Homo sapiens: one gene and its partners. The protein of the gene in region 4 interacts with the protein of the main gene of each other region in a biochemical or structural test. Each region holds a gene or a part of one and is shown on either strand. Other genes may lie near its edges.

What was found. Proteins that work in one complex are often made in the same cells at the same time.
Region 1: of the proteins of SRPK1 (region 4) and CACNB1, one has a biochemical effect on the other in vitro, tested with the Homo sapiens proteins (one large-scale study listed by BioGRID).
Region 2: of the proteins of SRPK1 (region 4) and STAU1, one has a biochemical effect on the other in vitro, tested with the Homo sapiens proteins (one large-scale study listed by BioGRID and IntAct).
Region 3: of the proteins of SRPK1 (region 4) and AHCYL1, one has a biochemical effect on the other in vitro, tested with the Homo sapiens proteins (one large-scale study listed by BioGRID and IntAct).

Annotation. Positions count from the first base shown.
Region 1 is NC_000017.11:39,183,972-39,187,701, reverse strand, and holds part of CACNB1 (voltage-dependent L-type calcium channel subunit beta-1), read left to right. Parts: intron 1-100; coding exon 101-223; intron 224-772; coding exon 773-909; intron 910-1,129; coding exon 1,130-1,206; intron 1,207-1,597; coding exon of another isoform or gene 1,598-1,752; intron 1,753-2,551; coding exon 2,552-2,571; intron 2,572-2,837; coding exon 2,838-2,918; intron 2,919-3,318; coding exon 3,319-3,377; exon of another isoform or gene 3,378-3,469; intron 3,470-3,561; coding exon 3,562-3,671; intron 3,672-3,730. UniProt on the Homo sapiens protein: Regulatory subunit of L-type calcium channels. Regulates the activity of L-type calcium channels that contain CACNA1A as pore-forming subunit.
Region 2 is NC_000020.11:49,178,137-49,181,866, reverse strand, and holds part of STAU1 (double-stranded RNA-binding protein Staufen homolog 1), read left to right. Parts: intron 1-2,622; exon of another isoform or gene 2,623-3,569; intron 3,570-3,730. UniProt on the Homo sapiens protein: Binds double-stranded RNA (regardless of the sequence) and tubulin.
Region 3 is NC_000001.11:109,987,733-109,991,462, reverse strand, and holds part of AHCYL1 (S-adenosylhomocysteine hydrolase-like protein 1), read right to left. Parts: intron 1-3,730. UniProt on the Homo sapiens protein: Multifaceted cellular regulator which coordinates several essential cellular functions including regulation of epithelial HCO3(-) and fluid secretion, mRNA processing and DNA replication.
Region 4 is NC_000006.12:35,886,369-35,890,098, forward strand, and holds part of SRPK1 (SRSF protein kinase 1), read right to left. Parts: intron 2,556-3,730; coding exon 2,447-2,555; intron 1,744-2,446; coding exon 1,656-1,743; intron 444-1,655; coding exon 356-443; intron 1-355. UniProt on the Homo sapiens protein: Serine/arginine-rich protein-specific kinase which specifically phosphorylates its substrates at serine residues located in regions rich in arginine/serine dipeptides, known as RS domains and is involved in the phosphorylation of SR splicing factors and the regulation of splicing.

The sequences.
Region 1 (3,730 bases), on a different chromosome or scaffold from region 4:
TAAAGTAAACATCCAAGTAACCACCACTACTGTCAGGAAGTTGTACATTACATTGTGGTTTGCCCTCTAGTTGCCATCCTCCCCTGTGTGCCTCCTCTAGACCAAGCCAGTGGCATTTGCTGTGCGGACAAATGTTGGCTACAATCCGTCTCCAGGGGATGAGGTGCCTGTGCAGGGAGTGGCCATCACCTTCGAGCCCAAAGACTTCCTGCACATCAAGGAGGTGGGTATCTGGAGGGAGGGCAGGGAAGTGGGTGCCAGGAGACAGGCAGCCAGAGTGCTAGTGGACAAAAGGCTTCTGAGCCAAGCAGAGCCAGGCTGAATCTGCTGTGTGACCTTAGACAAATCTCTCCACCTCTCTGAGCCTCTTAATTTTCTACTGGAAAAATGAGGTGGTAATGCTTAGGTCAGAAGGTTGTTGGGAGGGTTTGTTAGGGGGCCTGAACTGGCATGGCGGTGTGCCAGGGACATGTAGGTATCCGCATTTACTCCAGCGGCCTTTGTAGAGTAGGGTGGGCACATGGGGAGAAGGACTCTCAGAATTGCATTGGGCCGGTGGCAGGGTGGTCCATGGCCAGAAAGCATGCTGGTCCTGGAGTTGTCCTGAGAATTGGCAGCTCCACTCAGAGGCTGGAGCCAGGGCTGGGGATTTTTGAGGGTGCCACCCCTGGGCTGGGAGGTGAGTCTGGGCGTTTCCCCTAGAGAGTGACTGCTAGCTTGCCCCTGCAGTTTCCCTCTTGCTCTTTCCACCCACCTGCCATATTCTTTGCAGAAATACAATAATGACTGGTGGATCGGGCGGCTGGTGAAGGAGGGCTGTGAGGTTGGCTTCATTCCCAGCCCCGTCAAACTGGACAGCCTTCGCCTGCTGCAGGAACAGAAGCTGCGCCAGAACCGCCTCGGCTCCAGGTGTCTGGGTGGGGCAGGGGAAGGGGATGCTGCCAACCCCAGGAGAGGCCATACAGCCTGGACTAGGCCTCAATGGTTGTCCCTGGCCCTGAGGGCACAGAGCTGCCTGTGGCATCACCAGTGGGGCTGGAGCACCTCCGGGGGTGCCGCATGTGAGAGGATGAGAGCCCCCCACGCCCACCTCTTTGCTCACAAGCTCGGTTTGCCTCTGCCCACACAGCAAATCAGGCGATAACTCCAGTTCCAGTCTGGGAGATGTGGTGACTGGCACCCGCCGCCCCACACCCCCTGCCAGTGGTAAGAGCCATCGCCATGCAGGGGTTTGGGAAGAAGCTCCTGGGTGGGGTGGTCTCCCCACTCCCTGAATCCTCCTTTCCCTGCAGTAGGAAACACCCCAATCCTGAGTCCCCCAAGCACATGCAGTGGTTCCCCCTCCATGAAGAGTAGGCTACCCCTCAAGCTGGGCCTGTCATGTCTCTCCTCTCCCTTTTCTTTGGTAGCTCCATCTCTCTGCCTGATTCCCCTGCCCTGCCCCCATTCATTTCTCCCAGCCCTGTTCCATTCACCTCTTCTTCTTTCTTTTTTCCCCATCCCCATCCCTGCGTTCTGTACTTGTGTCTCCACGTTCATCTCACTCCTTCTCCCCACCTCGCCTCCCTCCTCCCTCTCTCCTGACTCTCCGGTCCAGGTAATGAAATGACTAACTTAGCCTTTGAACTAGACCCCCTAGAGTTAGAGGAGGAAGAGGCTGAGCTTGGTGAGCAGAGTGGCTCTGCCAAGACTAGTGTTAGCAGTGTCACCACCCCGCCACCCCATGGCAAACGCATCCCCTTCTTTAAGAAGGTAATTCTCGCTGTGTTCTTGCAAGAGGTGGGGGAGTCAGGGCCAGCACTTTGGTGGAGGGAAGGGGGCTGTAATGGATTCAGATGTGGTACCAACCTGTTCTGTGGGCATCAGGGCTTCCTGCTGAGGTGGAGGGAAGGGTAGCATGGGCACATCCCCCTCCACACACAACTCCACCCTGGCCCGATCTCCAGGAAGGAGATCTTGCCCTTGGAAGGTTGCCCCCACACCTGGGGCAGCAGGGTTTGGTGGTCATGAACCCTGACCTCTCCCCTCACTCCCAGGGGCCTGCTCTGGTGTTGGTGTCTACCTTGGCATGTGAAGCAGGACATGGGATGGCATTCCTTCTTTGCCCTTTTTTGACTCTCTGGGTGGGCACATAGTGGGGGGGGGCTGCTGGCTGCAAAGCAAGACAGTTAAGGGAACCCCTAAAATGGGCATGTTGGCATGCACTGGGGGCAGGAGATGGGCAACAAGATAGGGGCTGTCACCCTCTCCAGCTCTTTTCCAAGACCCAGAAGAGGGTAGGATATGTCTGAATATTCCCACATCCACTGGACTGACTGTCAGTCCTGCTCCCAGCCCTGATCCAGGGCCACCTCTGGCTCCCCCTTGGCGTGGGGTCCCGTTCCCCGTCTCTGGCTCTGTCTGTCACTAACACGCATGCCCTGTTATCTCTCCTCGTCTGCCCGGCTCTCCCTCCCTCTCTTGTCCTGGCTCCTGCCTTGCCCTCTGCCCCTGCCTGGGTCCCCTTCCCTCTCTCCTCCCCCTTCCCTCTCTTGGCAATCTCTGGACCCAGCCAAACAGAAGCAGAAGTCGGTGAGTATCACAGCTTTCTGTGTCCTCCTCCCCACTCCCTGGGATGAGCTAGGGGGACCTTCTAACACCCATTCCCACATCTGTCCCCCATTTCCCCCACCCTTCCTGGTTCTCCCTGGCCATCCCTCCCCACCCCCACCCTGATCCCTACATCTGGGCTCTGGGACCAGGGTGGGGGAAGGCTGCATGGGGGAGCCTGGAGTCTGGGGGAGAGGATCTAATGTCATCTCCACTCTGGGGTTTCCCCTCCCTGCTTCCCCCCCCAGACAGAGCATGTGCCCCCCTATGACGTGGTGCCTTCCATGAGGCCCATCATCCTGGTGGGACCGTCGCTCAAGGGCTACGAGGTAGGACTTCCTAGAGGGGAGTGGATGCAGAGGGGCCTTAGAAAGATCTTCAGACCCCAGAGAGATCCCCTAGAAGGGCCCGATCCCAAGGCATCCTCCCAGGAGGGCTACAGACTTTCAGAGACAACCCCCAGGGGGCCCAATCCACAGAAAGACCCACTCAGAGGAGCCCCGTCCCCCAAAGAAACCCTCAGAAGAGCCCTCCCAGAGATGCCACTTACAGGGACCTTGGAACCAGAGACCCCAGTGGAGGCCCCTCAGACTCAGACCCCCGCCCGCCGTAAAGGCCTGTCCAGAAGAAAGTGGAACGTGAGGGTACAAATACCCAGCGACTCAGAGTCTGAGCGGCTTTAAATGCCTGCCTTCTCCTCCCTCCCTCCCCACAAACCCCCACCCCCAGGTTACAGACATGATGCAGAAAGCTTTATTTGACTTCTTGAAGCATCGGTTTGATGGCAGGTAAGATCCTGGGAGCTGCTCCTCGCACCTGCCGTTGCTCTCTGCTGCTGGGGATGGGCAGGATGCCTCGAATCACAATCCTGGGACTCGGACTGAGGAACAGAAGGCGGGCCTGGAACTGGGGAGTGGGCAGGGCATTCCAGCCCACCCTGACCCCTGACTCCCCTCTTGCCCCATTCCCCAGGATCTCCATCACTCGTGTGACGGCAGATATTTCCCTGGCTAAGCGCTCAGTTCTCAACAACCCCAGCAAACACATCATCATTGAGCGCTCCAACACACGCTCCAGCCTGGGTGAGCCTACTCCTGCTGTCTTCACTCCCCCTTTCTGGGCCGGATGTGGGAGGGGTGGG
Region 2 (3,730 bases), on a different chromosome or scaffold from region 4:
TACATTGGGGTCTTTTCCCCTGAATGAACATGATTGCTGAGGGTTAAACCTTCATTAGATTGCCTCTGCTTTTTTTTTTTTTTTTTTTTTTTTTTTTTTTGTTGAGATAGTCTTGCTCTGTTGCCCAGGCTGGAATGCAGAGGTATCATCTCGGCTCACTGCAACCTCCACCTCCTGGGTTCAAGCAATTCTCCTGCCTTAGCCTCCCGAGTAGCTGAGACTACAATTGAGCACCACCACGCCCGGCTAATTTTTTGTATTTTTAGCAGAGATGGGGTTTTGCCATGTTGCCTAGGCTGGTCTCGAACTCCTGAGCTCAGGCAATCCGCCTGCCTTAGCCTCGCAAAGTGATAGGATTACAGGCTTGAGCCACTGTTCCCGGCCTTGCCCCTATACTTGATGTAGCTACAGAACTGGTTGCTCAGTGAGTGGGTTGGTTTTAGTCAGCATATTCTCTGATCCTATTTAAAATTTTTTACAAGTGGAGTGTTGCTGTAAGTTTTATAGATGTTTATGTGTAAGGACAGGTTTAGTGAATTTGCTGGATAATAATATTTACTGCTATTGAGCTCTTACCATGTGCCAGGTTAGAATTACAGGGTGAAAGTTATTTTATGCAGAAAAGGAATTAAAAGGTCAGGTTGAATTTACCTAATAATATAAAAGTTGCAGTTCATTTAGCTCTTTCCTTGAACCAAAGAAAAGGGTTTCTTAGACCCTTTATGTTGTATTTCTAATACTCATAAACATCTTTGCAGCGTAAAGCTCATAATAATTGCTGAGGATGCTGATGCGCTTCCGAGGGGCCAGATAACTGGCTCAGAGTCCTGAGGCACCAAGTATTAGTTCTAGAGCACAGGCTGGTCTGGCTCCAAAGTCAGTGTTCTTTCCACTGAACCATGCTTTGTCTCTAAATTATGCTTAGGTGCTTTTTGTTTAGGATAATTGATTCTGCTTGTCACTGGTGGCCCTCCCCTGACTCTCCCCACCGCAGCAGCTAGGATGAATTTTGCTCATTAGAACCCTAGATCAATTTGAAAGAAAGTCTGGTTAAGTAATAGTCTTTTAGATGGACCCTTGAAATAGCTTTCCAGTTTACTTTTATTTGTTATGTCAAATTAAGCTAAAACTTAAAGCTGATCCACAGGTTTGTGTGTGGGGAGGGGCTGTCTTATTAACCTTTGTGTTAAAGGAGGCCAGCTCCTAAATTACTGCTATCGTGTGTCATCAGGTTTGTTAAAAATTGCTGGCATGGTGGCCCACGCCTGTAATTCCGTCACTTTGGGAGGCCAAGGCAGGCGCATCACCTGAGGTCAGGAGTTCGAGACCAGCCTGGCCAACATGGTGAAACCCCATCTCTACTAAAAATACAAAAATTAGCTGGGTGTGGTGGTACGTGCCTGTAATCCCAGCTACCCCGGGGGCTGAGGCAGGAGAATGGCTTGAACCCGGGAGGTGGAGTTTGCAGTGACCTGACATCGTGCCGCTGCACTTCAGCCTGGGCAACAGAGCAAGACTCTGTATCCAGGGGGGGAAAAAAAAAAAAAGAACTGTAGTCCAGGTTGTTGCTAAAAAAAAAAATTCATTTCTTCTGAATTCTAACATTCTGCTTTAGTGGAAATGAGTTAACTAAGCTTCCAATTAACTTTATAGGATAGGTGCTGGTTGTCCTCTTTGCTTCCTAGCCCTTTCTAACATCCCTCTTGTGGCTAATACTGTTGGGAGTATTTAGTACAGCTTCCTGTTTGGAATTGAACTGCTTCCTGAACAATTTTGTTTTACTTTTGTTTGAAACGGTGATCTGAATCAGAAGCTTCTTTGGTATTCCACCTGGGCAGTCTTCTCTTATGGTTAGTCTTGAAAGGCTGGATCAGTGAAATTAAATCTGCCTTTGGATGTGAGCTTTTAGTGAAATGGTGTCTGAAGTTCCATTTTGTGTTTAACCTCAACTGAGGCTACCCTGTAGTCTGTAATGACATAGCATGTCTCATTAATCACTAATAGGTGTTGGAAATACCCCTTGGCATGAAGTGAGCAGATAATGCTGCTTACATTGTCACTATATTAGCTCCCTTCAGAGATGAGCTTTAGGATCTAACTAGATCTTGTCTGATTCTCTCCTATCTTTGCTGTTTTGAAATCCATGCCTTCTATAGATTACAATTAACTGAGGCATGAATTTTCTACCCTTGCAGATTCCACCCTGATTCAAATAGGGCCATTGTCTGCTGAAGCCATTGTGATTTTATGCAGAATGCTAGGCAGTCCTTTCCTCTGTCAGAAAGAACAATTTATATGTAATAATAAGTCTCATTATGCTTGGAAGCTTATTTTCCTTGTTGCACAATTGAACCAACCTGCTCATGAAAGCTCCATGACCCTTTACCTAGATGACAGTCAAATATAGTTAGGCAAATAAGTTTCCTTTTGGTTTGTCATTGAGTAAACCTTTGCAACCTGTAATGTTTAGCAAGTGACTACTTCTGTATAGTAATTTTCCTTTTAGTTGAGAATTTATTCAAGCACCAAACATAAAAAAGAATAAAAGTGAAATAAGCTTTCTTTTGCATAAGGGACTTTCTATAATTTGCTACTTTTTATCTTCTTTTTTTTTTTTTTGAGGTGGAGTTTTGCTCTTGTCGCCCAGGCTGGAGTGCAGTGGCGTGATCTCGGCTCACTGCAACCTCCACCTCCCAGGTTCAAGCGATTTTCCCACTTCAGCCTCCCGATAAGCTGAGATTACAGGTGCGTACCACCATGCCTGGCTAATTTTTTTTTTTTTTTTTTAGATGGAGTCTTGCTCTATCGCCCAGGCTGGAGTGCAGTGGCGCGATCTTGACTCACTGCAAGCTCTGCCTCCCGGGTTCACGCCATTGTCCTGCCTCAGCCTCTGGAGTAGCTGGGACTACAGGTGCCCGCCACCATGCCCAGCTAGTTGTTTTTTTTTTTTTTTTTTTAGTGGAGACGGTGTTTCACCGTGTTAGCCAGGATGATTTTGATCTCCTGACCTTGTGATCCACTCGCCTTGGCCTCCCAAAGTGCTGGGATTACAGGCGTGAGCCACCGCGCCCGGCCATGCCTGGCTAATTTTTATATTTTTATTTTATTTTATTTTTGAAGCAGAGTCTCGCTCTGTTACTCAGGCTGGAGTGCAGTGACCCAATCTCAGTTCACTGCAACCTCTGCCTCCCGGGTTCAAGTGATTGTTCAGCCTCAGCCTCCCAAGTAGCTGGGATTACAGGCATGTGCCACCATGCCAGACTAATTTTTTTTTATTTTTAGTAGAGACAGTGTTTCACCATGTTAGCCAGGCTGATCTTGAACTCCTGATCTCAGGTGATCCACCTGCCTTGGCCTCCCAAAGTGTTGGGATTACAGGTGTGAGTCACTGCGCCGGCCTAATTTTTGTATTTTTAGTAGAGATGGGATTTCACCATGTTGGCCAGCCTAGCCTCAAACTCCTGACTTCAGGTGATTGGCCCACCTTGGCCTCCCAAAGTGCTGGGATTACAGGCCTGAGCCACGGTGCCTGGTTTAGTATGCATTCTTGACTGGGGAAAATTGCAGTGGTAAGTGTGCACTATATAGATATATTGATAATGATCATGATGGCTTTGGATTATCTTTTGAAATTGGAGGATTTCAAAAAATAGATTTGCATATGGAAATGTGCATTTTTGTTGGTTTTTTGAGATGGAGTCTTGCTTCATTGCCTAGGCTGGAGTGCAGT
Region 3 (3,730 bases), on a different chromosome or scaffold from region 4:
CACTTTAAAACAAGTGAACTGGCTTGGGCTGGTAGAGAAGAACATGTTAAGCCCATTAAGCCCCACAGGTTAAGTACACAGGCACATCAGCGGAGGCGTTGGGGCTTTTATGGTAAGAAGCAGGAGCATGCTTGGAGAGTCTTGTACCTGTGGTTCTCAAAAGTACTTTTCCAATCTCTACCCCAGATTTCCAAATACTACCTTTTACCAATAGTTCATTAAACTTTTTACTTTGTGTTCCATTTGGGTAGTGAATGATTAAGCCCCCCAATGTATACTGATAAGCAGTATCCATCATTATCTACATTCTGAGATTAAGGCACCAGGCTAAATCCTTTAGAAAAATTAAACAGAGATAGAAACAAAAATGAAAGCAGTCTGAGTCTCTCAACAAAGGCATGGATGCTCCACTCTAGTTCTATGAGTGGCATGCAGCAAAGGCCACACATTTCTACAGGAGAAAATCAGTTATACATAATTAGAAGCAGGCTGTTAAGAGCAATGAGAAAACAGTACCTGCAGGGATGGGGGCGGGGGTGCTGGAGTACATACCTAAAATGATAAAGTCACAGTTCAGAAGTCTTTGCAATTATTTCATGTAATTCAAGGATTCTAGTTTGGGAAAACCCCAAACACCTGAAGTTTAAGGAAATAAACTCCTGGACTGAGACTGGCCCAGTGTCTGACAAATACCCACATTCTATGAGTGCATTATGTATTACGGGGGATGAATGGGGAATGGTAAGGTAGAGGACATCTCAACTCCATCAAAAGCTCTAAGATCTCTGTCTACACACCCCACCCCTGTAGTTAACAAAATGTTTTGGGGTTCAGTAGCTGTAAGCTCTATATAAAATAACATTTTTGTCAGAAAAAAATTTTCTTATTGAAAAGACATTCCAATAGAAACTTCTTTGTTTTGGCTCTTTAACATTTCAAAATTAGGCTCTCATTTGCACTATCATGTTGCATCATCCAGAGAGTTATAAATAGGGTGGCCACATAAACCAGGGTAACTTTCAGAGCTACGGAGGCACTCCTTGGACTGCATGCTAGGATAACAGGTATAAACCAGAATTGCGCCAGGCAAACCAGGATATATGGTCACTCTAGGTACAAAAAAACCCCACTAATTACTATTTACTAAATGCTAACCCTCTCAACCATGTATATAGATAGCACTATCATTGTTCCCCATTTTACAGATGAGAAAAGGACGTCACTTGTTGAATGTCCCACAACTATTAGATGGTAGAGACTAAAGGTAAAACTGACTCCAAAAATCAGTGCTTACCTTATGTTGTACTACTACTCACAGTTTTAGGAACAGAAACGGGAAGTTAAAGGCGTCTTATGTAACAGCCAAGCAACAGTGGGACAAAAGAACTACTTGAGTGAGTCAAAGGAAAATATGGAATCAGAAAAGGAAAGGCAACTGCAATTCTGTGTGAATTTTTATTAACTGCTTACTACACAATAGGCACTGATAGTATTGACAATAATCAAAAGGAAAATTTGTGGTAAGAATTTGTCTTCAACTGGGGATTCTCAGATTTCAGGCTAGAAAAAATTCTGGTCTATGCACGTAGGTTGCCCTTCACATGACAGGAATGCTTCTGACGCACCTCATTAGCATGTGTTCTGAATTACTATTCAGTTCTAAATTATAATAAAATGTATCCAGTATAATCAGGGTTGACATTCTTTATAAAAATGCAATACTCACATTCCCAAACTTGAGAAACAGGTACGTATAAATGATTCTCCTTTATTCGCCAGTTCCTTTAAAACAACCCCAAGAGGGCATTAAAGTGCTTATTTACAGATCATTAACTACTCGGAGTGGCAGAGTACACTTGCTAGGAGTCACAGGCAACTAAAGACCTGCATGATTCCATGTATCAAAATATCCTTTATAGACAACTTTCCAAGAATACTATATTGGGGTGGGCGTGGTGGCTCTTGCCTGTAATCCCAGCACTTCGGGAGGCTGAGGTGGGAAGATCGCTTGAGCCCAGGAGTTCAAGACAAGCCTGGGCAACACAGGGATTTCCCCATCTCTATAAAAAATAAAAATAAATTTTAAAAAAGAATATTATATTGGGTAAAACACTCTGGATCCAAATGACACACTCCTGATAAAAGAAAAGGTATACATTTGTAACCTTGGCAGCAAAAGATCTAGACAACTACTGATCTAGAAATCTTCTAACAGATTTCTGTTACAAGCTAAATGTCTAAAGAAACTTGGAACAAAGTAATTTGGAAACTAGAGTGTAACTAACTAAACCAAACAAGAAAAAGAGATGTAATCAATACCTGCGGAGAAATCTTAAAAAGAGGATCTTCTTACACCCCAACTCCTGTTTTAAAGACTGCTACTACAACAGCAGCCACTCTAAGGAGAATCAAGAGATACTAATGATGTGAAGATAGGAAATGCCAACCTATGAAATCTCCTTTCAGTGATTCTGACAAGTCCTGGCGTAAATTCTATACAACTGCACCAAAAATTAACCGTAAGATAACTCTGATGACAAAAGGAGAAACCTGGATTTTACCTATCGGGTTAACACCCAAGCTGTACCCATTGGGGCTCTACTTGGTGTGCTTCCTAAGTCTCAGCTGACCCTTTTGATGAATTAGTGGCACATAGCTTCATTCAAATAAAGAATATCCTATAAACAAAAGTAGTTTCTTCTGTGCTCTTCTCCTTCCCCACATTTTGCTGATGGGTCTGACTCCACAGATCCTAGGTCAAAATGTTTAATGGATCACTCTGGAGAGTGCCTTTAATGTTCAGAAGTTCAGAGAACAGCAAATGTTCTGAAAGGCCTTCCGGAGAAACATGCTTATTGTAAGAGCTCTCCAACAAGTTGGAGATTTGGGTTTACACTATGAAAAAAGAATCAACTTGACACAGTGTCAATTTCCAAAGGTCCAAGGACAGTTACCACTCCTGTTACACAAAGTAGCAGCAAAAGAGGGATAAATAACCAGTGGTTATGGGGAACTAGATTACTTACTTGGTTTGACCGATAACTGCCAACATTAAACAAGGATCTTCTTCAGTTGTGGTACACTTAACTCTTAAAACTCAAGGATTCCTTTTCTTACCTCAAATTTTCCTAGCCATACCATCTGAAATCACCAGTGACAGTCGTGAACAAGCCTTACAATGTGAATTACACTACAGCTATTAAGACATTCCCGTGAAAAATTATTTTAGAACTCTGTGTCAGGAAAAGTCGTCCCCTTGAGGAATTGACATGTATTATTTCCCATGCCTGCTAAGGAGACTGTAACTATGATTCTTTTCATCCTCTGGCTGCTAAAAGTTTCAAGTTGCATGTGATCAACCTCATCAACTATCTTAGCCCTCGAGGTTAACAATATTTTTTTCATTCTTTCTATAGTTTTTACTTCCTTTTATATCACATATATGTTCTGTGTTATAAGCCACTTCAAATGCCCATTGAAGAAAGAATATAAATATACGAATAGACTTTTAAAAAATTACACTGCTATCTTAACTCCCCAACATGCCCCTATCTCCACCTGTTCCAAAAAAAATAGGCACTTATTTGGCAGATGAGGAGATGCAGGTACAAAAGCTAATTAATTTGCTCAAGGTCATATCCCTTTAGTTGACTTCTCGACACCCAGACATCTCAAATCTTCAATCAAACCAACAAGTCCTATTTTGTTCATAGCAGTGTGATAGACCTTG
Region 4 (3,730 bases):
CGTGCCCGGCCTACTCAGTATTTTTCATAAGAAATTACTTCCCTTAAAGTTTCTGTGCTAACTGACAAAAATCATAGACTCTTTACTTAGTGATACAACGCATTTTCTAAAAGTTTCCTTTGATTTCGCTTTAATTTGCCTGAAAAGAGGACAAGAAGCTTAAAGCAATATTCTGAAAAATCACACCACACAAAATTAGACAAAATTCAGATGTGTGTTCAGAAGTGTACAATAAAAGAGGTAATTTTATTATAGTTTGCCTTAGAAAAGACACCAAGGCCATCTACACAACAAATCTAGTTCCTTTCTTTGGGATTGGGATGATTTATTCTCAAATAGGTTTTTAAAAGGATACGTGTTCCATTAACTCCTGATATTTTAAAGTCATCTAGTAGTTGAACAACCATTTCTCTATTTGGATCATTAGGGTCTGAATTGCGAACCTGTAGTGGGGAAGAGACAGTGTTTAGCACAAGGTAAAGCATGGAAATAAACCAGATGGTAGGGGAAGAATACTTACAGCAAATTAACTACAAGAAAGAGCTCACATAAATCTATTTTTAAAATATACTAAAATTTCAATAGCTTTAATGGAGAAAAATCTTAAATAGTCAATTCATAAGAGGAAATACAACCAACAGGAACTATTTTTCTAATTAAACTATTTTGCTCCCTGATATCAATCAAAGTGTGGCCTCCAAATTAACTGATGATTACCAGGCTATGAGGAACTAAGAAGATTTTGCAGGATGCAAATCAACTACAGCACTAACCACACTGTTTTTTTCAGCGGACATTTTTTTTTTCATGGAAAAACTTTCTCAATGAAGAAAACAGTATGTTGATTTACTTTTGGGTAGGTACAAGGCTCCTTATCTTGTCACAAACGGACATTCTGAAAAGTACTGTCTTAAGCCAGATGCAGTGGCTTGTGCCTGTAACCCCAGCTACTCTGGAGGCTAAGGCAGATCACTTGAGGCCAGGAGTTGAAAATAAAAAAGAAAACTACTGCCATAGAAATCTCCTGGTGCAACATTCTCACTTTATGAATAAAAAATCTGAGACTCAGAAAGAAAAAAATGGTAACATGGAGGACATACCGGGGTAAAGGCGACCTAAACCCAGGTTTTCTAATTCTGAATTTAAGTTCCTTCTACCACACTGGCATATTCCTAATTTAAAACAGAACTAAAAATACATTTTTGATAGAATTTATCTCAGTTTCCAGGTATAAATGGAATCAGTAAATACAGTATTTTTATATTATGTATTCTATAACATATTTGAAAAACAACAAAAAAGATGCTATACATTTATTTACACAACTTTCCTTTTAACCATAGTAGGAAAAAAAAACATTATGACAGTAGCTACCTGGCCTGTAAAACATGCTCAGTGAATATTTTTATTCATTTGAAAGGTTTTTTTTTGGTTCATGCGTGTAAGAAGAATTCTCATCATAGCATTTGCCACCAGTTCCCTACTACATGCATGGTATGTGTAAATATTGTTGTCTTCCTTTACCTCTTTAAGGTTACTAGAACTTTATAGAGAAAATTATCCATGCTAAAGAGCCTCCACTTGGTGTGTTTTTATTCAATGAAACTTGATTTATTTATAATTCTTCACATTCATACATATAATCTAATACTCACTGACTTCAGCAACCGGATTTCATCTAGTGCTGTTTCAGTGTAATGTTCAGCACTTTTAACTACTTTCATTGCCACAAATTTCTTCCCCCTAAGAAACAAACACAGGCAATTAAGACTACATAGCCTACCCTTACTTTAGGAAGCTAAGATTTAGCTATAAGATGGTTAAAAAGGACAAATATTGATTTCACGTTTCCCTGTAGCCCAAACAAGCTACTTCTATGGGAACATTTATACTTGTTAATGACACTAACTGGCCAGATTTCATTTATAGGAAGAATAAAAAATCTGTTCTCAGATAATCTCAGTTGTTGAACATTTTCTCTGAGTTAAAATCCTTCTTTTGAATATCTCCCTGAGTTACAAGCAAAACTGCAAAATGAGGATAAATAAGGGGAAAGATATTACCAAATTCCAAGTGTTCTGTGTATATATCTGTATATAGGCAAAAACTAAAAGGTTAAAAGCTGTAATATTTTCCCATAGGCAGCCAGAAGAAATACTTCGGTGAAAAGAAAATGATAAAAATCACAAAAAAATCAAACGACAAAAGCTTTACCAGCATTAATTTAATCACTCCTGTCTCTATAGTAGAAAGGGAGATATATAATACTGATTCTTCACGAAAGAAAAGTGGTTTCTCCAAGAATACAGAGACTATTGCCAACAACAAAATTCTGATAAATGAATCAGGCTAGAGATAGATTGAAGCCTGGATCAGCAGTGGAAACTCAGACAAACACATTTAGACATCATCTAACTAATTCTTTTACAGAACCACTAAAACTTACTGAATATCCCATGATAACCATACTGTTGAAAAGTGTCCCCAGCCTAACTTTCGGATCACATGGTATCTCCCATTGAATAGATCTCCAATTTTCACAAGATGATAACCTCCTGGAAGAAACAGGGGAAATACAATCAGAAAAACCAGGATGAGAAACAATGGTAAGAAAAGGCATTTTTAACATCACATTTTTCAACATCTATATACCTTTTATCAATAAAAAGTTTCTTTTATACAATCAATTCAACAGAAGAAAATCTTAATAGTCAAATCAGCCACATAGTATTACTGAATTCATGTTATTAAAAAAAGTGAGTAAGATTAATGATTTAGATTGAGCCTACAACAGTCTCATCCAAAAACAATAAAAAGGTTGTATATCATGATATTCTTGTCTCTCAATAATTCAATAGGTTTATCTAAACATATATATCTATTTACAATTACAGTCTCAGGTGTTTTTTAGGAGACAGAATAATTCTGTTTATTTAGCAAAAAAAAAAAAGCAAGTAAGCAAACGGGATTTTCTCTAAATAAAAACAAAACAAAACAGCCCAGGCACGGTGGCTCATGCCTGTAATCCCAGCACTTTGGGAGGCCAAGGAGGGCGGATCATTTGAGGTCAGGAGTTCGAGACCAGCCTGGCCAACATAGTGAAACCTGTCTCTATTAAAAATACAAAAATTAAGGCTGGGCATGGTGGCTCACGCGTGTAATCCCAGCACTTTGGGAGGCCGAGGTGGGTGGATCACCTGAGGTCAGGAGTTTGAGAACCAGACTGGCCAACATGGTAAAACCCAGTCTCTACTAAAAATACAAAAATTGGCCAGTGTCATGGTGCATGCCTGTAGTCCCAGCTACTCGGGAGGCTGAGGCAGGAGAATCGCTTGAACCCAGGAGGTGGAGGTTGCAGTGAGCTGAGATTGTGCCACTGCACTCCAGCCTGGATGACAGAGCCAGACTCTGTCTCAAAAAACAAACAAACAAACAAAAAACAAAAAACGGCAAGGCGCGGTGGCTCACCCCTGTAATCCCAGCACTTTGGGAGGCTGAGGCAGACGGATCACAAGGTCAGGAGATCGAGACCATCCTGGCTAACACGGTGAAACCCTGTGTCTACTAAAAAAAAAAAAAAATACAAAAAATTAGCCGGGTATGGTGGCGGGCGCCTGTAGTCCCAGCTACTCGGGAGGCTGAGGCAGGAGAATGGCATGAACCCGGGAGGCAGAGCTTGCAGTGAGCCGAGATCGCGCCAACTGCACTCCAGCCTGGGCGACAGAGCGAG